Linked DNA regions of Homo sapiens. The protein of the gene in region 1 interacts with the protein of each later gene in a biochemical or structural test. Each region holds a gene or a part of one and is shown on either strand. Other genes may lie near its edges.

What was found.
Region 2: the proteins of SNAP23 (region 1) and KIF5B form a complex in vitro, tested with the Homo sapiens proteins (one study listed by BioGRID).
Region 3: the proteins of SNAP23 (region 1) and SCGN form a complex in vitro, tested with the Homo sapiens proteins (one study listed by BioGRID).
Region 4: the proteins of SNAP23 (region 1) and VAMP7 form a complex in vitro, tested with the Homo sapiens proteins (one study listed by BioGRID).

The regions. Positions count from the first base shown.
Region 1 is NC_000015.10:42,505,630-42,512,666, reverse strand, and holds part of SNAP23 (synaptosomal-associated protein 23), read right to left. Parts: intron 835-7,037; 5' UTR 821-834; coding exon 764-820; intron 1-763. UniProt on the Homo sapiens protein: Essential component of the high affinity receptor for the general membrane fusion machinery and an important regulator of transport vesicle docking and fusion.
Region 2 is NC_000010.11:32,032,403-32,039,439, forward strand, and holds part of KIF5B (kinesin-1 heavy chain), read right to left. Parts: intron 7,030-7,037; coding exon 6,925-7,029; intron 6,425-6,924; coding exon 6,376-6,424; intron 5,817-6,375; coding exon 5,761-5,816; intron 5,206-5,760; coding exon 5,118-5,205; intron 4,977-5,117; coding exon 4,852-4,976; intron 3,593-4,851; coding exon 3,488-3,592; intron 3,266-3,487; coding exon 3,120-3,265; intron 2,437-3,119; coding exon 2,288-2,436; intron 1,637-2,287; coding exon 1,443-1,636; intron 373-1,442; coding exon 304-372; intron 1-303. UniProt on the Homo sapiens protein: Microtubule-dependent motor required for normal distribution of mitochondria and lysosomes. Can induce formation of neurite-like membrane protrusions in non-neuronal cells in a ZFYVE27-dependent manner.
Region 3 is NC_000006.12:25,647,897-25,655,242, reverse strand, and holds the start of SCGN (secretagogin), read right to left. Parts: upstream 3,029-7,346; 5' UTR 2,840-3,028; coding exon 2,758-2,839; intron 1,862-2,757; coding exon 1,791-1,861; intron 1-1,790.
Region 4 is NC_000023.11:155,940,339-155,944,300, reverse strand, and holds the end of VAMP7 (vesicle-associated membrane protein 7), read right to left. Parts: intron 2,419-3,962; coding exon 2,350-2,418; coding exon of another isoform or gene 2,162-2,349; 3' UTR 532-2,161; downstream 1-531. UniProt on the Homo sapiens protein: Involved in the targeting and/or fusion of transport vesicles to their target membrane during transport of proteins from the early endosome to the lysosome. Required for heterotypic fusion of late endosomes with lysosomes and homotypic lysosomal fusion.

The DNA.
Region 1 (7,037 bases):
GGTGGTTCAAGCCTATAATCCCAGCACTTTGGGAGGCTGAGGTGGGCGGATCACGAGGTCAGAAGTTTGAGACCAGCCTGCCCAACAAGGTGAAACCCCATCTCTACTAAAAATACAAAAATTAGCTGGGCGTGGTGGCACACACCTATAATCCCAGCTACTCAGGAGGCTGAGGCAGGAGAATCGCTTGAACACAGGAGGCAGAGGTTGCAATAAGCCGAGATCGCATCACTATACTCCAGCCTGGGCAATAGAGTGAGACTCCGTCTCAAAAAAAAAAAAAAAAAAAAAAGTAAGTTGATCACTACATTTTTAGTTATTTTCAGGCGCTCCTTAAGAGAAAATGTGTAAGGACTTCCAGTGTGATGTTGAAAGAAAAAGTTTTTTTAAAAAAGAGAATATTTGGATGGTGAAGTTCATGGGAATAAAAATTTAATGTAGGTAGAAATCTAAGTAAATTACAGATATTAGGAAATTGTTAAATAGAAGTCTAGCATTTCTCAAATACATAGTAGAGTATCTTTGTTACACTTAAGTAATATTAATAATTACCTAAAAAATAAAAATCATACAAATTGTTTTCACTTTAGTTTTCTGGTGAGTTAAAAAGAAAATAAAAACCAGCAATGGCACTAAGGAGCAAATGTGTTCTTTGATATTAATGGACTAGGAAGAGGCCAAAATGTCCCTAAGAAGGCTCTCTCACTCCTCCAATATGAAAACTGAAATAGAATTATTTACTTATTTTAGGTAAAACATTTACCTCATCAGTAATCTGGTGAGCTCTCTGTTGAATTTCTTCTGATGACAGATTATCCATGATGAATCAAAACTCTATTAGGCACAGAAATGGAAATGTGGATATTGTATAAGAATAAGGATATATAAAAGTTTGTGTGAGCAAAAAGTGTAGATTTATGGAATTTAGGAACTTATCAGGAAAACAGGATAAAAGAACCTCTTTCTATATCTATTAGTCTACCACAAGTAAAGAAATCAAGACCGAGAGAGGCTAAATGAATGTTTAATAAGAGTGCCAAGGGTGAACCTAAAATACAGGTTTTAGGACTTCTAGGGAAGTACTCTTTCCAACAGGAAAGTGGATCCTCTACTTAGAGAAGCAAGGCATTACTGGAAGACAAGCATTAAAAGACTATTAAAGTGAATTTTTGGTTGTTCAATGTTCTTCATGTGTTGTCTGAACATGGAAAAGCAGTAGGTGAAGAAAAGTCCAATTTAGTAAAGTAACAAAATTTGAAGTTATGTGCCTGAAGAACACAGGAAACATTTCTAAATATGCCAGTTGTCCAGGACACTCACTGGAGAAAATACTTTCACTCTTAACAAGAAAAGGGAAATGCTGGTACAAACAGCTCGGAAAAGACTAAGGTTTTTATTATGCATTAGACTCTTCCCCTCCAGTGGCTTATATTGTTTTGTTGTTTTACTGGAGTCCCTAAGAAACCAAACAATTATTCTCCTATACACAGTAACTCAGAAGGAGATCTCATAGACATCCAAGCTAAAAAATAAAACATTTCGTAGGTGTTACTCAGCACGGCTGTTATCTAATTCCTCTTTGAGAAGTCATGTGGAGTAATAACAAGCATTGTGCAACGGATCTAGGTTCTTTGTTACATTTGCTAGCTTTGTATGAATTTTCTCAAAACTCATTTATCAAAACTCACGGTCAATGACACAGATAAACTCTGGTTCTTATTACAGATTTGACCCCAGGAATCTGGCAATGTCTGGAGTTGCTTGATTGTCACAACTTGGGCCAGGTGATGGGGCTGGTTAATGGCATCTAGTAGGTAGAGGCAGGGAAACTGCTTAACATCCTACAACACTCTTCAGGAAAGCCCTCCAGCAAAGAATAATCTGACCCAAAATGTCAATTTGAGGTGAGAAACCTTGCCATGGATATACTCTTTGATAAGCAGAAAACTTAATTCCCCAAGAATGTACTGGACTGAATTCTTGGAAGGCAGAGATTTTATCTTTGTATCTCTAACACCTAATAGGATCTGATGGTAGATACTCCAAAAATAGCTGAATGAACAAATAAGTAGAAAAACAGGGTGTACTCTCAAAGTATTTACATGGCTCTTAGAAACAAAGCTGCATGTAACAGTAGCACAAAGCTCGCAAAGAATCACTAGAGCCACAAACCAAAAACTGCTATTGCAAGTGTATGATATGATCACATATAAATCTTTTCAGTCATTTTTGGCTGGGTGTGGTAGCTCATGACTGGAATCCTAGCACTTTGGGAGGCTGAGGTGAGTGGATGGCTTGAGCTCAGGAGTTGGAGTTCAGCCTGGGCAACATGGCAAAACCCCATCTCTACCAAATATACAAAAATTAGCCAGGCATGGTGGCGCACACCTGTAGTCCCAGCTACCGGGGAGGTTGGGGTGGGCGGATTGCTTGAGTCCAGGAGGTTGAGGCTGAAGTAAGTCAAGATCATGGCACTGCACTCCAGCCTGGGTGACAGAGCAAGACCCTATCTCAAAAAACAAACAAACAAAAAAATTTAAATCTTTTCAGTTGTTTTTAATTGAACCACTACTATCATGTTATTTTTTTTATTTTTTTGAGATGGAGTCTCACTCTGTTGCCCAGGCTGGAGTGCAGTGGTGTAACCCTGACTCACTGCACCTTCTGCCTCCTGGGTTCAAGCAATTCTCCTGCCTCAGCCTCCCAAGGAGCTGGGATTACAGGCATGCACCACCACGCCCCACTAATTTCTGTATTTTTAGTAGAGATGGGGTTTCACCATGTTGGCCAGGCTGATCTCGAACTCCAGACCTCAGGTGATCTATCCACCTCAGCCTCCCAAAGTGCCCAGATTGCAGGCCTGAGCCACCGTGCCTGGCCTTGTTTATAATTCTACTGTCATAGCTGTTTTATGGTTTAAGATTTTGAGGGCCAGGCGCAGTGGCTCACGCCTGTAATCCCAATACTTTGGGAGGCCGAGGCGGATGGATCACGGGGTTAGGAGATCGAGGCCAGCTTGATCGACATGGTGAAACCCCGTTTCTACTAAAAATACAAAAATTAGCCGGGAGTGGTGGTGAGCGCCTGTAATCCCAGCTACTCGGGAGGCTGAGGCAGGAGAATTGCTTGAACCTGGGAGGCAGAGGTTGCAGTGAGCCAAGACTGTGCCACTGCACTCCAGCCTGGGTGACAGAGCGAGACTCCATCTCAAAAAAAAAAAAAAAAAGATTTTGAGCCTTGATTAAAGCCATTAGTGCTCATGAAAAAAAGCATTTTAAGTTCCAAATTTAAGTTTCTATCTTGCTTGCCATAGACTGTGCTTCAGGCAAAAAGTTTCCACACTAAGATATAATCAAGATATAAAGATATCATTCATTAGATACAAGCATAAAAGGAACCAGGTATTTTATTAATTTGCTAATTGTTTGAGTCTTAAGCTTTATCATACATACACATGTCCATGCTACTGTTCCTCTTTTGTCACTCTTTCCTATTTGCAACTACAAAAAGTAAATGGAGATTATTTTTTGTACCCTCTCACCTCCACACTTTTGCACACCTTTCCTTTCTATAATACCCCACATCTGCCCAGGTAGCCTCATGCTTTTCCATCACTTCCTAAAGCCCCAACCGAGATACCTCTCCAAAGCCTGCCCTCCCCAGGCAGTAATGCTCTGAAGTTATCTATTCCTGTCATGTGTAACTCCTCAATGCCCGACAGAGAAGAAAATATGAAAAATAATATACACTAATCCATTAGTGCCTGGAAAAGGCACCCTTAGTGAGGTTTTCAGATATAGTATCCTGTGGGTCGGGAGACATTCTGGGGTAAGGAAGCCCAAATATCACAAATTATGTAATTTTGTAATTCTATTCCTAGAGGTGATTATTGCCAATTACAAGTCAGTCTTTGCTAGCTTCCTAGGAAAAAAAAAGCAAAACTCCAGAGTTAGGAGTGAATGCACTCCTGACCTCTGTGCTGCCTTCTTTAAAAGAAAAAAGAAAGCAGATATAACTGGGAGATGGATAACGTGAGGAATCACCCCTGACATCGCAATGAGGTCATTCTGAAGGACACATCCTTTCCATGTGAACTCGAAGTTCTGCTTAATATTTTTTTCTTCCCTGACCAGACAACACGCAAGACAAGTAACAGATATCTACTCCCAAGTTTGGCATGCTAACGCCAGGATGCAGCTGCCTAAGATTACTCTGTGTTCTTGAGGGTTTTGAGCACAAGTTTAGTGTGGCTGTCGCTCAGAGGGTTGGATTCAGTACTGCCTGTGGATACCAATTGGCCCTGAGGAACCTGCAGATATAAAAGTCCGCCCTCTGTAGACGGGAGTTTTGCATGTATGAATACCGTATTTTCTTTTCTTTCTTTCTTTCTTTTTTTTTTTTTTTGAGGCAAGGCTTCACTCTGTCATCCAGGTTGGAGAGCGGTGGTGCAATCAGGTTCACTACAGCCTTGCCCTCCCAGGCTCAAGCAATCCTCCCATTTAGCCCCCTGAATAGCTGGGACTACAGGTGCATGCATCATGCCCGGCTAATTTTTAAGCTGTTTTATAGAGACAGGGTCTCACTATGTTATCCAGGCTGGTCTCAAACTTCTGAAACTTTTGGGGTCAAGCAATCCTCCCACCTCAGCCTCCCAAAGTTCTGGAATTACAGGGATGAGCTACCGTACCTGGCTGAATACCATATTTTCTATCTGCATTTGGTTATAGATGTGGAACCTGCTGATACGGAGGGCTGATTGTATTTACTGAAAAAAAAATTTACCTATAAGTGGACCCACGCAGTTCAAGCCCATGTTGTTCAAGGGTCAACTGTATATGAAAGTAACAGAGTCAAAGTAGAATTGTAAGGGGAAGGACAAAGACAGACAAGGAATAATACTCCTCAAGTTCTTATTGGTCTTTGTAAGTTTGCTGAGACGAGTCAGAGAGAATGTAACCTATAATTAGCTACATAGCCTTACTCATATTTATTATTCTCTGCAGACATTTTCCTTACGGAATCAGGAAAAGGTTACCCAGAATATTACAGAAAAGAGAACTGGTGGGGTGGGATGAAAAATAAAACATCAGTTGATACAAAGATGCCATTAAACGTACTTTTCTCAGATTTAATCTAATCTATTAAATACTTGTGTCATTTTTCCAGTGCTGCTGGGAACTTATACTATGCTAATAGTGTGCCTTTCAGAGGAAAATGCAAGATTTTTCTCAGTGCTTTTACACCCTATTTCTCATGCTATGGTTCACTTGGGCTTACTAAAAGACTCCTAATTTGACCTTTTTCTTTTCTAATTTAAACCTAGGCAGGGAAAGAAAAGTTCACTGAGTACCTCTTAGGCACCAGATACCCTACTAAGTATTTATCTACATCATTATCTTCATTATACTATTTTACAGATGGAGAAACTAAGGCTCAGTTTAGGTAACTTACCCAAGGCGGCTGTGTCAGTAAAGAGCAGATTGATTATTCAAGTCGGGATCTACTCGCAAATTAAGTATAATTCATGGTCTGATAAAGAGTCTTTCTGGAGCTGGGAGTGGTGGCACACGTCTGTAATCCCAGTACTTTAGGAGGCCAAGGCAGGAGGACTGCTTGAGGCCAGGAATTCAAGACCAGCCTGGGCAACATAGTGAGACCCGTTCTCTACAAATAATCAAAAAATTAGCTGGGCATGGGGCGCATGCCTGTAGTCCCAGCTACTCAGGAGGCTGAGGCACAAGAATCACTTGAACCTGGGAGGCAGAGGGTACAGTGAGCCGAGATGGCATCACTGTGCTCTAGCCTGGGCAACAGACCAAGACCCTGTTTCCAAAAAAAAAAAAAAAGTTTTTTCTGTTGACTGTATCCACCGCCCCCTTAACAAACAATAGATCATATGAGAGCTGCTGAATATTGGAAAATAGGTCAAGCAATCCTATATGATGGCTCATTTCAAAATTTCAGATGCTTTCTATAAGACCATGAAATTTTATCTCTTCTACAGACTCAAAGAAGACAGTTAAATTGAAGGAGAAATAGACCACAGTAATCATGGTTTTCAACTGTCTTCTATTATTTCAGAAGCTGAAAATAATCTACATTAATTTAGAAAATGAAAAGAAGTCTATTGGCTAGGCACAGCGGCTCATGCCTGTAACTCTGGCACTTTTGAGGGCTGAGGTAGGAAAACGGCTTGAGGCTAGTTTGAGACCAGCCTAGGCAACACAACAAGACTCTGTCTCCACAAAAAGTAACAACAAAAATAGCCAGGTGTGGTGACCAGTGCCTGTAGTCCCAGCTACTTGGGAGACTGAGTTAGGAGGTTCACTTGAGCCTGGGAGTTCAGGGCTGCAGTGAGCCATGATCCCCACTACACTCCAGCCTGCCTGACAGAGCAAGACCCCAAAGAAAGAAAAGAAATGGGCCGGTCACAGTGGCTCACGCCTATAATCCCAGCACTTTGGGAGGCCGAGGTTGGCGGATCACAAGCTCAGGAGTTCAAGACCAGCCATTGCCAAAATGGTGAAACCCCATCTCTACTAAAAATACAAAAATTAGCCAGGTGTGGTGGTGGGCGCCTGTAGTCCCAGCTACTCGGGAGGCTGAGGCAGGAGAATCGTTTGAACCCGGGAGGGAGTGGTTGCAGTTAGTCGAGATCATGCCACTACACTCCAGCCTGAGTGACAAGAGCAAGACTCTGTCTCAAAAAAAATAAAAAAGAAAGAAAAAAAAAGAAAAGAAAAGAAAGAAGGAAAAGAAATGGAAGGGAGGGAGGGAGGAAGGGAGGAGATAAGAAAACAAGCAAGCAAGAGGCCAGGTGCGGTGGCTCACGCCTGTAATCCCAGCACTCTGGAAGGCCAAGGTGGGCAGATCACCTAAGGTCAGGAGTTCAAGACCAGCCTGGCCAACATGGTGAAACCCCGTCTCTACTAAAAATACAAAAATTAGCCAGGCGTGGTGATGCACACCTATAATCCCAGCTACTCAGGAGGCTGAGACAGGAGAGTTGATTGAACCCGAGAGGCAAAGGTCGCAGT
Region 2 (7,037 bases), on another chromosome or scaffold:
GACTGCTTTTCAATTATCCCCCTGCTCTGCTGGGTGAGAAGATAAAATGAGGATCCAAAGTAAGTGACAAGAAGAGAAATGTCAAGAACCAGGGTGAAAAAAAAGATGGCGGAAATGAACAACAGATTGTATCTGGGTAGATACGATGAATAAGTAAAAATTCACTTTATCCATGTGACATTCTTATTCCCACAAAGACAGTCATACCCAAAATTATACAACTATTAAAGACAAAGTCAATGGGATTCAGAAAACAAAACTATAAAGCTTTTCTGGAAGCAATGTAAAAGGTATTCAACTCACCTCCTCCTGATCCAACATTTGCGTCTTCAGTTTCTCTACCAGTTGACTTTGCTGGTTAATTTCTTCATCCTAGAATTGTGAAGTATCCGGTTAACCAGTAGCTAACAACCTGGTTCTAGTTGTTTCCCAATACAGGTTATAAGATTACTACTCCCCAGAAATATTTCAAAACCATTTCTCTAAATTCAACATTGCTTATTTTAATCTCTTTTAAGAAAATGGCAAAACAAAAGGAATTTCTTTCAATTATCAATACTTATAATGGTCATGTACTTCGAACCTGCCATCTCTGCTTAAAATATATTAAAAATATCAACTTAAGAAAATATTTTCTTCTAATCTCTTTACTACTCTTGTTCTTGCCTTCCATTCTATTACGTTCTTAGTTTGCTATTATTCATACTATTGACATTACTTCTATATGCAAAGCAGGAAGATATTATTTCCACTCTATTGTGTTTCCCTTAATCTCTCACATCATCTTTTATTGGAGTCTTCAGAGCCCTGATTCTAACAATTGGTATCATTGAGGCTCCCAATGACCCAATGCCAAATTTTCATTAGAACAGGGGTCCCCAAGCCCCCAGGCCACAAAGCAGTACTGGAAGCCTGTTAGGAACCAAGAAGCACAGCAGGAGGTGAGCAGCAAGCATTACCACTTGAGCTCCGCCTTCTGCCAGATCAGCAGCATTAGAATATCATTAAGAGCGCGAACTCTATTATCAGCTGTGCATGCAAGAGATCTAGGTTAGAGGATCCTTATGAGAATCTAATGCCTGATAATCCAAGGTGGAAGTTTCATCCCAAAACCATCTCCCCGACCTGATCCACGGAAAAACTGTCTTCCCTGAAACCAGTCCCTGGTGCCAAAAAGGTTGGGGACTGCTGCCTTATAAAGTTCTTTTAGCTTAAAAAGAGGGGGAAGAAAAGATACATGCTCATACAGTTTCCACACAGAAATTGAAATTATGACTTTTTATTTTGTTAATACAATAATTTTTACAAGATTAACAGAAATCAAGGAAGATGCATAAAGATCCTAAGTGCCCACAGCACTGAAATGAGAAAAGTTAGAAAATAAAAACACCCATGTCAATAGTATCCTAATATAAAGCAGACCTAAATCAAGCAATACCTACCTTGTCATCAAGCTGTTTGTATAATTTAGCAATTTCTTCTTCACACTTTCTTCTTTCAGCATCAGTAAAATTTCCTATAACTCCAATTGCGGTTGCTGGTTTATCATTGGTAAGAGTAATATCTTTATCCACTGTGAAAGCTTCCAAGTTGGCTTTCTCTTTGTCAAACTGTTCATCAATAGGCACCGTCTCCCCTAAAATAAGAAAATAAAGTGGTTAATAAAAAAACGACGTCTAAAGCTAATTTCAATTTCATTCCTTTAAAAATTTTTTTTTTTTTTTTTGAGACAGAGTCTCAATCTGTCACCCTGGCTGGAGTGCAGTGGTGCAATCTAGGCTCACTGCAACCTCTGCCTCCAGGGTTCAAGCAATTCTACTGCCTCAAGACTCCTGATTAGCTGGGATTACAGGCGCTCAGCACCATGCCAGGCTAATTTTGGTGTTTTCAGTAGAGATGGGGTTTCAACATGTTGGCCAGGCTGGTCTCTAACTCCTGACCTCAAGTGATCTGCCCACCTTGGCCTCCCAAAGTGCTAGGATTACAGGCATGAGCCAGTGCACCCAGCCTCGTTCTTTCAAACTTTTTCTTCTCTGTGTTATTTTCAAATAATCTGTCTTCAAGTTCAGATTCTTCTGCTTAATTAATTCTACTACTGATGGTCTCTTGCATTTTGCTCATTTTATTTTTCAGCTCCAGGATTTCTATTAATTTTTTTAAAAATTATTTCGATGTCTATTAAATTTCTTGATCTAGTCACTTACTGATTTTGCTGAACTATTTCTACGTTTCTATGCTCTAAATCTGTATTTAACAAACTGAAGATGACAAATTCTTAAGTTATTACCATTACGCCATCTGTTGAGCTCATTTTCAAGCCACTGAATAGTGTTCCGCAGGATCTTATTTTTTTCTTTTTCTTTTTCATACTTCTTTTTCCACTGTTCTGCAGTTAACTCCACATTGACACAAACTGTGTTCTTAATTGTTTTGGCCCTAAGAGATGTAATTGGAGGAAAAAAAGGATGAGACTGAAATTATTTTTAATTTTATCTATATGGAATATATGTATATATGGCTAAGAAACTTATGCTTGTCCAGTAATCTCTTAGACTAAATACTAAAAGCCGCAACATATGACGTTATTTACAACTCAACTAAATTTGAGTCTGCTCCAAAATCTGTGAATAGCTTTAAAAAAAAAAAAATCAACAAACCACTAAAAATAAAAGACAAAGGCCTATATTTTTCCAATTTGTTTGCAAGGCTGAATTAAGAAATTACTGTTGAAAGTCAAAGACGGAATCATCATTACTGATTTTCCTAATCATCTCATACAGATTATATTAACCTGTCATGCATGTCTACAGGCTTAACAGAGGATTATGTTTGCCAGGCTTTGACCTCATTATTTGATTCAAATGCTTATTTTCTTTAATACCAAATTACAGCTTGTCACACAAATTTGACTAAAATTACATCTGACTTTAATGTGTACTAAAACTTAAACCAAGCAGTCTAAAAATCAGACCCACCTTGTATTATCTGTCATCAATTCAAACTGAGTGTGTCTAGCACAAAACAGTATGTACAGGTTGGAATAACAGCTCACATTTTCCTACATTTTATAAACAAAAGGTCTATCTAAATTTAGGTTTTGTACTTTCTTAACAACAAACCTTTGGCCAAATAAGAGTGTAGATTTTGTTTCAGACTCATTGTATGATGATGGAGAGCAGCAAATTACAATAGTGGTTCTACAGTTGCCACCTAATGAATCTTGAAGGATTCTTGTCATTTTACTATCTCGATATGGAACATATGTCTGCATACAAAAACAAAGAAAGAAAACAAGACCAGTATAATAAAATGTTATTATAAAATAAACTCCCAAAAGACAACTAACTTACACATACTGATTCAAACACATTGAATCTCAATCTCTCTTTCTCTCTCTCTCTCTCATACACACCCAGGCACACATATACACCTATATTTAAATAATGCCCCATAAGGTAACAGGGAGATAGAAGACATGTATACTCACACTACCCTCAGCCAAAGCAGAAATAACATTTCCAAGAGCAGAAAGTGACTTGTTGATGTTTTTAGCTTCATCCAGCACAGCACCTTCAGCTCCAGTTTTACTAACCTATACATAAGATTTCAAAAGAATGAAACAAAATTACAAGTTTATAATTTTCTTTACATTTTCTAAAATGTTCATATGTCATCAATAACCAGTAAAAAAGAAAAAAGAACATGAAAAGCTTCATGATCTTATTTGCCAAGCATACCACCATTTCTTGAGTACTACTCTTAAGAGTTTGATTAGAGAGACATCAAATTTTATCTGTAGTTTGTAGGTACTCTTGAAAATAACCAATTTAAATGTAAATTTGTAGTTCATTAATCTGTTAGTCCCCTTTGCTACATTAGAAAACAGGAACCTTCTAAAATTGGCTAATGCATAATGTTGATGTTGTAACTGTTAGAAAACAGAGACTGAGTTTTAAACACATTATATAAGCAAATCTGCTTCTTTTAAAAATATATAAAATATCTAAATATCTATGTTGTGGTGTTTTTTTTTTGGAGACTGAGTCTCACTCTGTCACCCAGGCTGGAGTGCAGTGGCTTGATCCCAGCTCACTGCAACCTCCGCTTCCCGGGTTCAACCAATTCTCCTGCCTCAGCCTCCCCAGTAGCTGGTATTACGGGCATGTGCCACCATGCCCAGCTAGTATCTATGTTAAAGATAGGTCAGAACAATAAATTAGCAATGTTGGCTGAAGAAATAGCTTAGGAGATTTCTCAGATTAGATAATCTTTGAAAGATGTGTGTAAGACTTCAGAGTAGAACGGAATAGATATATCATTCTAAGCAGAAGAAACAAAATTAGCACAACAGCAAAAATGGTCAGAGGTCCCTATTATAACATTCAAACTTAATTTGATATAGACTAGAATCAGACTGTATAGAATTGTAATAATGAAACAATAATCCAAAGGAAAGAAATAAGTCCAACCAAACCAGAAAAGACTAATCGAGAGTTACCAGTTTTAATAGGGACCCCACTGCCAATATGGATAAAATACGTATCAAAAATTAGAAAAGGGATATCTAATAAAGTTTATAACAACATATGCTGAACCAGTTCTCACTATGAACATATCTTAAGTCATAGAAACCACTTATGGGTTGAACTAGAGTATGGTCAAACAACAGTAACTTGGAACTGATTATTCAGCTGATATCATCATAAGGCACTGGCATCAGCGGTTACAAATCTCAGGTTACCAAATCCAGTTTGGTAAGTAAGATGCAACAATGAACCCTGCGTAACTCCCAACTCAAACTAAAGTTTACAAAGATGCTTAAATATTTGTCAAAATACATGAAGACTTTACCTTTTCACTACCAGCTAAATCAACCAGATAAAGTTTTCCACTCAGCTTTTGTTCCGTTTGTGTGTTCTCTTGTTTGACATTAATAAGAAATATACTGTGACTCCTAGAGCTATGTTCATTCATATCTGCAAGGAAATTACACAAACAAATATAAACAAACATGATTTCCCCTTAACAATTTCCCTGAAGCAATCTTATAATTAATCACCTGGATAAGGATATTTTAAGCTGGTTTTAAATCCTAACCAGTGTTATTTTCTACTTACTTGTAACTGCTACATGTCTGTTGGATTTTCCTTCATCTATGGTATCCATAACTTCATCTGGACTACATACAAAACGCTCTGTGCACCCCTGTGAAATAATTTTTAAAAATATGTTAATGTCTGGCCAACATGATGAAACCCTTTCTCTAATAAAAACACAAAAATTAGCCGGGCGCGGTGGCGGGTGCCTGTAATCCTAGCTACTTGGGAGGCTGAGGCAGGAGAATCGCTTGAGCCTGGGAGGCAAAGGTTGCAGTGAGCCGAGACCATGCCATGCACTCCAGCCTGAGCAACAGAGCGAGCCTCCATATATTAAATGAATTGGCTCACGCCTGTAATCCCAGCACTTTGGGAGGCAGAGGCGGGCGGATCACGAGGTCAGGAGTTCAAGACCAGCCTGGCCAACATGGTGAAACTTCGTCTCTACTAAAAATACAAAAATTAGCTGGGCGTGGTGGCGCATGCCTGTAATCCCAGCTACTCAAGAGGCTGAGGCAGGAGAACTGCTTGAACCCTGGAGGCAGAGGTTGCAGTGAGCCGAGATTGCACCACTGCACTCCAGCCTGGGCGACAGAGTGAGACTCTGTCTTAAAAAAAAAAAAAAAGTATTACAGGGTTTTCTAGACAACTGTACTATAAATACCTTTACATAGGGAACTCGGTTTTTGTCTTCATGAACTGAAAGGTTGGTCTTTGAAACTGAGAAAGAAAAACAAATGTTAGCAACATTCTCCTAAAACTCTTAACACTGGATATGAAATAACTGATAGGCTTTCCTGAGCAGCCTAACAGCAATAGTTGAACTCTAAAAACATATTAAAACATTGCTCTAAAGCAGACCTTACAGACACAGCAGGAGATGTAAATAGAAACCAATGCAACAATATAGAATTTTAGGACCACTCCAACCTACCACCCACATTTTATAAACAAGAACATTAACCCTGAATGGTTCAATGATTTGCCTAAGGACAATGTATCTAATTGACAGTTGACAGAAGACTAGAACTCAGGGCTCAGATTATGTAACTCCCAGTCCAATGCTCTAATTACTACTAAGAAGTACCCATAAACATCGCTTTAAACTAGTTATTCTATTTAAAGGTATTCAACTAAAACTTTAGAAGAAAAAAAATTTTGTCTATTTCCAATAACTTAAGACAATTTCATATAGGTTACAAAGAAATAGTCTCACATCTATTATTAAAAAGGAATTAACAGATGTTATTTAAAACTGATTAGCAAGAATTTAACTTACCATCTAACAGGTCCCTTATCTTATCCAAATATATTTCAAAATATGAAACCTAAAGGGCAAATTTAAAAAAACACCGATCAACTAAAGTTATATAACTTATTCGCATATTGAGGTCTGAGTGCTAGGCATTGTTTAGACTAGAGAGACAGTTATCAACATACCAGCCATAGCTCACATTCTAATGGGAAGACATAAATTAGCCAAATTAGCTTAGTTATTTAAGCAGTCTTCCCATTGGACATAAATTACATTATCTTCATCTAAAATGAATTAGAATAGTTTTATGTAGTAGAAACCTTCAAGTTCTGCAGTAAAGCAACCTCCTTTATTTTTTGAAGGAGGCTAAAGACTTAATCATTTACGTTAGTTAACATTCCTGTTCATCTAATGGCAGATGAACAAAAATCCAAGTTTACTAACCTGAATGATCTTTCAACTGTACCTTTCCAGAAAAACAATTTTTAAAATTAAAGAAACCAGCATTTACTATTTTTTTAGAACATTATTCTTGCTGTAAAATAAAATATAATCTTTCCTCAAGGAATTTACCTTAATATGAAATTCCAAATTTTCATCCATGGAGTAAATATAATTAAAAATATCTTGCACTATTCTTGGAATAATTCCCATGCCTTCTGGATCATGAAGTTTACCCTAAACAA
Region 3 (7,346 bases), on another chromosome or scaffold:
TCTGAAAAGGTGAGAAGTTCCAGGTCCCTGAGGACAGATTTTTAGGAGCTGGCCATCCCATTTATTCCAAGATTTTGAATGGTTTTAACTTTGTCTTTTTGCTTTCCTCAAATACCCATGTCCATGATAGATAAGATGGGTTTCTGGAACACGATGAACCTTACATTTACAGATATAAGTAGAAGCCCTGTGGGCAAGGCTGGTGGGCTTCACCATGGGCTGCTAGCACGTGAAAGTGGCTGGCTAGATTGAAGCAGAAGCCTCACTTGGGGGAGGCTTCCTCAGCTCTACCTGTAGCTTGTGTAGGTACAAGAATGAAGGATAAAGAGGAGTGTGCGCAAGTGGTCTGACCAGAGGAAAGAAGGGACTTGTGTCTCTATCCTTCTCGTCTGCTGATCCTTTCACTTCACAGGCTGCACAGGGTAAGGGGTGGAGTGCAGGCAGACAAAGAGCAATAAAAGGTACAGAAAAAGGGAGATAAGAGACAAAGAAAAGGGTGAAGGAGAAAATGTGGAGAAAAGAAATGAAGGTCAAAAAGAGAGATGGGAAAGAAAGAAGAAAGGAGAAATAAAAGACATGGGGAGAGGAAAGACCAAAAGAGCTTTGAGAAGCAGAGAGACTGGAAAAAGAATGGGAAAACACAGAGACAGAGAGATGGAGAAACAAATGAGAAACAGAGACAAGAAAGATGGGCAACAGAGAGGTCAGAGAGAAAGGCAAGAAACAGTAGGAGATGAGAGCCATGAAACACAGAGATAAGAAACAGAAGTGAGCAGAAAAATGACAGAGATAGACATAAAAAAGAGAGACAGACAGAATATGAGAGGCAGACAGAAGTAGAGGGGGACCAAGAGATCTGTGTGGCTGAAGAAGGCGGAAGCCAGCCCTTTTGTTTCTGAACCAGCTTCCCCTGCCCCCCACATACCCTCCCCATGTTCTCAACAGTGGTGAAGAGCTCCTTGTTCCCTCACTGAGCTCTCACATGAGAATGTGATGCACTTCTATTCTTCAGATAAACAGCTGAATGATAAGGACAAACTATCTCCATCATTCATTTAAATTCAATTGTCCCTAGAGCGTCTCCTTCTACTATGAATGCCCTACTGGAGCTTTCATCAGATCGAGCCCATCCCCAGGCTGTCCTCCGCTCATGTGTTTCTGTGTAAAATTTTTCTCTGCTTTGATAGAGAGACTTTCAAGAGTTCATTTACATCTCCCAAGGACATATTTACCATCAGATGGACACTAGATAGATTGGCTTCCATTTGTATCTGGGCTCTGAGTATGCTGGTTGTTTTCTGGTTTGTCATTCCCTGAAAAATCTGTAACCTCTTCTAATAAAATGAATAATGGATAAATGATTTTAAATGGTTTGTGGTTTGCTATCAGAGGAGTATCATACATATTAAACACCCAAAATCTTAATGTGCTTAACATCTTTTCCAGCTTTTTGAACAAAGTGGGCTACTTTACCCCCAGGTATAAATCAATTAGCAGAGACATAACCAAGGAGACGTTCAAGACCAAGTTAACTGAGTCTACAGTTAGGATCTCTGAGTGGATGACAGATGTTACACTGAAAGTCAGTAACCAGCATGTCTAATGCTACAGTTGCACCTTTTATAAAAACTGCCTAAATCCCTCTATGTTGCTAGGAGAGGGGGAGAAATTACATACATGCAAGGAAGAAAGGAGGTGAGTTGGAATTAATAGGTACCAATCAATATAAGACTTGGATGTGCGTATCTTACTAAGAGGCATAAATTAAGGCTTAGTGTGCAAGTACTTACATCAGTACCCAGTTTCATCAACATGTGGAGAAAGAAAGCATCGAGTTCCTTCTCTTCTATGTAACCTTTTTCTAAATGTGAGAAAATAAACATAAATAATACTAACATATAAAAAACACATGACAGTATTTATCTAAATATGTTTTTAATCTCACAATTCATAAAGCTTCCCTCAACACTATTTTTTGTTATTCCAATAACAAAGTGCCAACACCTACCTCTAGAATACATGGGTTTGAACAGTAAACACTGTTCCAGAATACGTGCTTTATGCTAGGGTTTATATTAGTGCTTGGAAAAGGAAGGCTATTAAGTACATGAATTTTAATCAATGAATAAACGTGAACTTTCCAATAAAATTTAACCCCAAAATTTCTGAAGCTTGGAGAAACTTAACAGGTGTAAGTATTGAATCCCAGTTTGCAGAGTTAAAACACACCTTTTAGATATTTTATTTCTTTATTAATAAAAACAAATATTAAGTAGTTCCATTTTATTTTCAAGTAGTTTTTTGGTGGAGGAGTCGTTTTGAAAGCTGATAAAATTTATTCTCATTTTGAGAGAGTGAGGGGTGTACAGCAAAGTCACTGCGTAAAAGTGAGCCCATTTAGGGAAGGATGACTTCAAATAGCTGAGTCTCAGCCCACAAGCCTTGAACATATACAATGATATTAGTCATTGTATATACAATATATATGTATGTCTACCATATATATGGCGCGCTCGCACACAAAGAGAGATTGGAAAGGGGAAAGTGGAAATTCACCACCCAGAATTTTAACAAGGTATATAGATGTGTATCACCAGTATGCCAAACGTCTGTTAATGATACTGTATTAGGTACACTGCATTAACAACCCAGGTCGATAACTTTTCCTACAGTAAAGGGGAAACTCCAGGTCCTTTCAGCGGGCTGAGCTTGGAGCCACGTCTACACCTGAGTGTGCAAGTGGCTTGTTCTACTCACCATCCGCATCAAAGCGCTGCCAGACCTGCCAGAAGCCAGCGGCGTCCAAGCGCCCCAGAGTCGGTTCCCGGGAGCTGTCCATGGTGTTGACGACGAAGACCAGGCACCGGCGCGGAAGGACCTAGACAACTTTGGGAAGGACTCCTTCACCGTATTTCTTGACTTGCTCTCCTGCTTCTTTCGCTATCTGATTAGCTTTGAGTAACTGTTGCTGGGGAGGACGCGAGCGCTGCTGGCCGTGGCGTCGCTGAGCCGTCCCTCAGCCCTCAGCAAAACCAGCGGCTGGAAGCCCGCCCCGCTCCTGGCGCGCCTGTCCCCGCCCCGCCCTGCGCGCTGTCCTGGCAGATCCTGTCTGTCTCTGCGCTTTGGGGAATTCAGGAAGAAAGAAACTGTCTCCAGGCGTCCACGGCTCACTGCTTTTGCCCTTTAACTTGCTTCTCAGACTCGGAGAAGACATCCCTCTTACGTTTGACTCACTTTCCAAACTTGTGTCTCAAGGGGTTTTCTAGGGAGAGCTGCCTCATTTAAAGGGTTGCAAGAAGTGTCAGTGTTAGGGTCCTTTGGACTTGAGGATTTAGAAATGTAGTGTGTGGAGAGGGGAGGCGAGAAGGGATGGTGATGGTGGTAAGTGGTTCCCTTTAAGGAAGAAGTCAACAGCAATTATTGAGTCCTGATTGTATAGGACATACACATTGCTGTACCAAAATGCACTATAAGGACTTGCAACTAAACAGGGATACTGCAAGTCACTGTGATTTAAAGTAGCATCATTAGGATGCTGAGGAAAATATAAACTAAGCCGTACTCTGCCAGGAAAAGAGAGTCTGGGGGAGATGTGTCTGCCTGCAGGGTACTTAGGTAGAAGGCTTAGATGATTGTGTTTGGCTCCTAAGAGCCACATTAAGACCAAAGGATAAAAATCAGTTGGAGGAACACAGAGCTTTCTAACAATCAGGACTGTTCAAAATTGGGCAAGGCTTTGTGGAAACGTGTACAAACTACACTGATACCTTTTGACTATATATTTAGAAATTTTCGTTGGATAATCTATAGAAAGTGCTTGGATATTAGATAAGAAAGTTGAACCAGATGTAACTTTTCTTTATGGCACCCTGACTCTGGTTTTAGCATTCAGATTTATTTATAAAAAGCATGCATGTATAAGTCATCTAAACCAGAGTAGTGAAAAGAACATGACACTCAAGGTCAGATAGTCCTGGGTCAGGATCTGAGTTCCATTATTTACCAGCTTTGTGAACTGCACCATTAGTTCTCATCTCCCTAAGCCTCAATTTTCTTATCTATAAAATGAGGATTAAAACATCTGTTTTGGAGGGTTGCTGTGAGGATCAGAACCATACATAGTAATGCACAATGAATTATATCTGCTATGGTGTTGTAGCTGATGAGGGATGACTCTGTTAGAGAAAACAAGTAAAGTCTAAGAGATTGTCATAGCCAAGAGGAACCTAATGAAAAATGACAAAGAAATGTAATGTTTTATCCTGGGTGTGATGCCGGAACAGAAAAAGGCCATTAGGTAAAAATTAAGAAAATTTTAATAAACACGGACTTTAGTTAATAATAATGAAAAAAATGGTTCAGAAGAAAACAGTTCTGGGTTCAGGGCCCAGCTTTGCCTCTTACTAGTTGTGTGTGATATTGGGCAAGTTACTCAAAAGAAGCCTCACTTTCTTTGTAAAATGGGAATAATAGTAGTATTTACCCCGTGTTATTATCATAAAGGTCAAATTAAAAAATCATATAAACCTATTGTCACAGTATATACAGTAACATTCAGTGTAAGTTAGCTACTAAAATGATGAATCTTCCATACATACATACATATTTGGAAGACGGTGAAGTAAACTTCAGGATTTTTGAGGAGTGTGGCTTAGCCTAAAGGAAGAAAAGCAGTATTATCACCGATTAAGCAAGTGCTGGTTACAAAAATTGGAGAAAAGCATATGTAGCATAGGAGGGTGTAAGGGTTCAGTATCTGTAATTATCATCTGTGACTTTAGGAAATTAGTGGATACAATGTCAAGCACCAGTTAGGAAAAGTAATTGGTATGAACCCACCAGGGCTGATCTTGTTTTCTGATAAATAGTGGAAAAAGATAAAACAAGGCAGATTTCAGAAGTAATAATCAAGATCTAATGTGGAGGGATGGTTAAATAAATGATAGTAAATATCTATGATGGGCTTTGCTGCATACACAGAAATCTTGATTTTGAAGCTTGATGATCCAGAAAACTCAAAACATAAGGTTAAGATTAAAAAGCAAGTTACAAAAGTGTACATATATGATGACTCAATTCTGTAAAATAAAATACATGTTTCTACACATAGAAAACATGGAAGATATACATTAATGACATTAATGATATGTTTCTCTGGAGTGGGGAAGAGGGAGGCTCACAGATGATTTCAATTTTGCTATTTGTAATTCTTTTGTCTTAAAACTTTGTGCAGTAAGCATATAATGCAAGCTATTATACTTTTTTAAAGTTGTAAAAGTGAAATCTAGGGAAAGAAGAGGAAAAGTACAGCCGCAAAGATTACTGTTCTCAGGACTGGAGAACAAACAGAACTTGGAACACTTTCCAGGAGCCTGTCATCTGGAGCTCTCTGGGGAGCTGCAATCTCCATTCAATGACTTATTTCCTGTTTTCTTTGCATCCAAATATTTATCATGGCACTGGGTAGGGAGATACTGCTTAGGAATCCTGCATTCCCTCATAAAAGTTTCTCTTTGAGAAAATCATCCAAGCCCTTAACAGAGAAGAGAGCCAGTAGGAAGGTATTTAAAGATCCTACAGGAGACACCTGTAAGACTGTCTCATTGGGAAAGTTCTCCTGCCTAAAAATGGAGTGATGGAGGTGGGGATGAAAGAACCAGAGGTGGTTTATCAGAGTCCCTTCCTGTCCAAAAAGAGAACTCAGAGTAAAGCAAATATTCAGCAGCTGGAATCAAGTTGAAATACATTTTGCATCTTATGGATTAATTAGCACCTTCCACAGAGATTCTGATTTAAATGGTTTGGAGAAAGACCTCTATGCTGATATTTTTTTAAGTGTTCCCCTAGGGATTACACTAGAACCACTGACGAACCTTTTGTCTATAAGTTTCCTGCTGCTCATATTCTGGTCATTTTATTATTTAGGTATGGCATCTCTGAAGGATAATCGAGAAAAGAAAAAACTTCTAAAGAATTAACATTACTTTCTTATTAATACACTGCCTCTTTCAAAGAGAGGTTAGAATTTATACTTATATGTAATCCTGGTAAGTTTTGACAATTGATGGCTGAAACTAGAGACTAAAATCAGTTGTTTTTCTTTTTTCCCTACTGATTTCATTTTCTCCTGCAATCATTTCCTGCTTTTCTCATTAGCATAGCTAATTGATGGTTAGTTGCACAAGAAGAGGCAGTGGTCTGTAATTTGAAGCATTGCTAATTAACTCTGATGCATCCATTCAATTTTAAGCTAAAATATCTGCATCTTTTTACAAACTCAGAATGATATTTCTAACTGGAAATATAAACAATACTCATCTTCATATGTTGTTGAACATTCAAGCTCTGTAGACATCTCACAGACTGTATAGTAGACCTTAGAATTCAAAGAGACAGCCTTGGTTTAAAGCCACACCAGTTCCAAAGGGCCATGCAAGCAGAACAAAAGAAATTGGACAGTGGTTTTCATAAGATAATAAGAAAACACTAGAAATAGAGTTATTTTTAAAATATATACATTTTACTGTTTCCTTTGCAATCACATGAATAGTACAGATAATTTAAACAATATAGATTAGAAAAACTACAAAACAAGAAAGAAAACTTTCTTCCATAATTTTGACATCTAGAGATAACTAGCAATAATAACATATGGGTTTATGTCCTTACAGTAATTTTTTATATGCAGAAAAAGTAGATTATACTGCTCTGTAACTTGCTCATTTCACTTAATATTATGAAGCATGTCATTAAATATTCTTCTATGATATTATTTTAATGTCAGTATTATCATAATTTATTTAATATCCTCTTTTTAGACTTTTCAATTGTCCCTAGGTTTTCACTATCATAAACCTCTGCTGTTACAGCTAAATGTTTGCACACTCTAGTAATTATTTCTTCGGGATAAAGTTCTAAATGCACAAGTGCTGGGCTAAACAATGTATAACATCGTAAGTCTTTATAACATAAGGTTAAAAGTGGTCTCCAGCTGAATTTTACTGATTTATACTGCTATTAGCAGTGGAAGAGATACCTTTTTACACCATTACTAACAATAAAAATAAAAATCTTTGAATAGTTTAAAGTAGTAGTTAATAGTGATTTTATAGGTGGTTGTTTGGGGTAATTTGGGATTTTTTAAGAGGTGGGCTAAGTGTTAAAGTTAAAAGCCTATCACACTCAAGTGGCTCTTCAAAATTTCTTGTCCTCTCTCCCCTTCCTACCCCACAGAACATAGCATCTGGCACTGTGTCTTGCAAACAGTGACTATTTAGTATTCTATATTACCCCAATGATACCATCTTTTCTTAAGGAGTTGATATCACTAAATTATGAAAGAAGAT
Region 4 (3,962 bases), on another chromosome or scaffold:
TTTAGCCACCTTACGTTCAGAGGTCCCAAGTGACTGATTATTTTGTTGTGACCTATCTATTTGTATATTTGATTTGTGCCTGTTTTTCTTTTATTTCTGTTTAGGTACCCTGTTTGCTATAATGAATTATTCCCTCCCACCATTATGCCTTCCGCTTGAGTCTCTTTCAGAACCAGTCATTTAACTTTAGATAGAAAGATTTTTCAGAATTGTGCTAAACTGGATGAAAATCCCTGGGGTTCTTTTTCAGTTCTGTCTAAATCATGCACTCAGGACGATAGTTGTGAAGGCTGTGTGATCATCTCAGAATCTTTCATTGGTTTCAGCATGGGCTATATATTTTTTAAGTTCATTTGTGTCTTTTGAAGAAATTCTACACACCTGAGACTATGCTACAGATCTTTACTGGAAGTCTCCAGGTAACACTTCTTAATATATTTTCCGCATAAGTAAAATACTTTTGTTCTGTAAACAATGGCAAATGTCATCAGAAGAAATTAGGTTCCAGAAAGAACTTCTAAAACAAGCAAATCATTGTATTACTCTTAAATTTTATTAACATCTTCAGTTTGTGCGTCATTTAAAATGAGACATGTGCTTTAAAAAGCATTCTTATACATAAATAGACCAAGGAACAGTTAGGTAATTGATCCCTAAAACATGCACATCAATTTTATTCAGGTGTGTATAAGAAAGGGAAATAAGCTTTAAACCTTTTTCTTTGGATTAAAAACATTTGGAAATTATTCAGGAATGCCAAATGTTTTTCTGGAACAGATGTATTTTCCAATAGGAAATACTGATGCAATTAAGAGGCATTAGTGTTGATAAAGAAGACTGGAAAAACGTTTGTGCTATGCTAGATAAACAAGAAAAGAGTTCAAGTGGGCCTAAGATCTATGTCAAATAAATGAATCAGGTAGCATGAATTGAAAGGTTTGGATAGAAGAACAGGTACCATGAGCCAGATTATGGGACACATATATGTTCAAGGCACATGACTAGGCTAAACAGGTGGCTAGATTCTACAGACTAATTTGTTCATTCATTGAGAAAGTGTAAAATGTAATATAATTTCAATTTAATGGCACTTATTGATAAATAAATGCAATTGGATCTAGGGTAGAAAATGTCTTCCTTTCAGATACACACCAGAAATGCATACTAGATAACAGATGCCAGTAGCGATATGATTACAGTCCAATTTTCTTACACTGCAGTTAAATGGTTGTTAAACTGTTTTGTATTAATTCTATATGTCATACTGTCTATTCTCTTTCAAGTTTCACAAAAGAATTCATCAAAACTAGGCAGATTTAAGAATTTATTTAACCACAAAGAATGCTCAAAACTATTATTCAACAGGAATCAAGCCCAAACCCTGGAGTTGACTGCTGACCGTATTCGGTTTGGGCTTTTCCCAGAATGGAAACACTTTTCCCACACTACCTCCCTTTGCACAGCTAAAATGCTAGCATATCCACTGTGGTTCCCTTCTTTTTCTTTGGCAAGTCAGAGGAATTTACCTCCCCACCCCCTCTACTACATATTCTATTAGCGACACGATTGCCCTAAATATTCACAGAAGAAAAAGGAACACATTTAAAAAACTGCAACTTTCAACAATATTTAAACCTTCATCTTCTCAAATCAACTGCAATGGGAAAACAGAAGATATCAAGCTATCCACTGTATTGTGAATGATCAGCACACTGAACTTTATTCCTGAAAGTCAATATTAGGAGGACAAGGATAATTCTGTGTGCTTCTAATGGGCTAGCAAAATGTTCCCCATCTAACTGAAATAAGAATGTTTCATACTTTACTTGTCTGAGCTCTTAGAAGGAAGCAGCACCAACATCATTACAATTCCCCAAATAACAACTATTATCCATTTATATTGTTTTGAAGCACCTAAAACTTCTCAATAACAAAAGACATTAAGATGAGATGTTAGCAATACTGTCTCTTGAATACTTTTGTGTGCACATACAAAGTTTCTCCATAGTTTTAGTAGATAGCTCATAAGACTAGCGGCGACAGCTTTGAGCAATTAAAAACAAAAATGTTTCTCTAAATAGATGACACTAGTTAACAAACCAAAGAAATAAACAAAAGCCTTTTTAAGGCTACTGCTGCAATGAATGGTTCAATCTGAAGTTCACAGGAATAAACTGGTAGATAAGACAAAGATAAACCTGGAGGCATGGAACAAGATTTTAAAAAGTGAGAAGAGGGTTGAAGAGACTGGCAGATACCATCTGTCAGTATGTGAAAGGCTTGAGTCACATGGATTGCTTTTAACTCCTTGTTCTCTCATATCCTTGGTTAATGGTAACTTCTTCTTTCCTATTTCTTCACACAGCTTGGCCATGTAAATCCACCACAGAGAGGTGAAACAATGATATAGATGAACACCTGGAGGGACGAGGAGAGCAATTTTATTTTCTTGAATCAATCATATTATTCTAAATAATATATATAGGAAAGTAGAGCCTTATTAAGAAATACTTCTGATTCCATTAGAGTAGCAGTTATGTAGTAATGGAACACACTAAACAAGTATTTTCCAAGACAGAAGTGTAGTTAACATTGTCGTTTTTGGTATAACTCACACCCACTTGAACTCTAGCGTTTCCTTCAGTGGGAGAGAAAGCAGTGGGGTTGTTGCTCTTCACTGGTAACTCGGCAGAATCAAGGCTAAATGAGCAACTCATACTGATGTGTCATTAACAAGTCATAAAAAAATCACAAATAACCATAATTCTCCTGAAGTATGGTTTCATTAATTATATTTTTAGGTTTTGCACATGAATTTTATTTTTGATTAATATAAGAATATATTTTAAAAGCCTGAGTAGAAGGCTTTCATCTATATCACTTATGAGCAAGAACACTGCTACGAACTGTTCAGTGGATAATGACACAATAATTACGATGACCAAAACAATGAAAAGCAGATGATGTAAGTAACACTGCAAAAATACTGGTGCTATTACAGATGTGTTTGCTTTTTAATTCTAGATTATAATTTTAAATTATATTATAAAAGTCACTACTTGTTCACATTATTATATCACAAAAAATAGATTTTAAACATTAGGTTCACTGCATTAGTCACTTTATTTTATTTATTTTTTATTTTTTATTTTTGTAGAGATAGGGTGTCACTATGTTGACCAGGCTGGCTTCAAACTCTTGGCCTCAAGCAATCCTCCTGCCTCAGCTTCCCAAAGTGCTGGGATTACAGGCATAAGCCCCTATGCCTGGCTTTATTTTGCTTTAAATTACAACTTTTTGAGATCTTTAAGTGACTGATTTCATTATTTGCAAGCTTGGAAAAGGATGCATTGATGAATTGCATGCCCTTTGCTCCAAAAGTGAGCAAAGCATTTTGCCTTGTAGGGAACTATAAATATTGCCAGGGTTGGGGGGCAGATTACAGCAAATTCTGTTTATTAATGAATAGGTTGAACTTCTGACATCATATTCACACATACACACACATACTCACACATACACATGCCACAAATGTAAAGTTTACCAACTTGATGTAAAGTTGACTATTTGTCACAGCTGTAATATAAGGATTTTTCAAGCTGAAGTACATCTCGTTAGGTGACAACACCTTTTCGCAAAGATTGATATTGCATTTAGAGCTGTGCTCTGCATGTAATAAGTAATCAGTAAATATATTCTGAATTTAACAATTCAGCTGCACAAATCAACCTAAACTCCCAGACCAAATAATAAGTAAGAAGCTAAGCTCAGGAGCCTAAAATGTGATATTAGAAAGAGAAACCTGAGCAAGGAACCATTCAAGGCCATGACAATTACTTCCAGTATAAAATCTACAGATCTATGACTGCTCTTCTCTTTTAGATAAATCCAGCTGTCTAAGGCAGAGGACCCTCAAGCTGTGGTAGAGGAGAAGCAGGGTCAGAGTTATCTGCTTGGAGGTA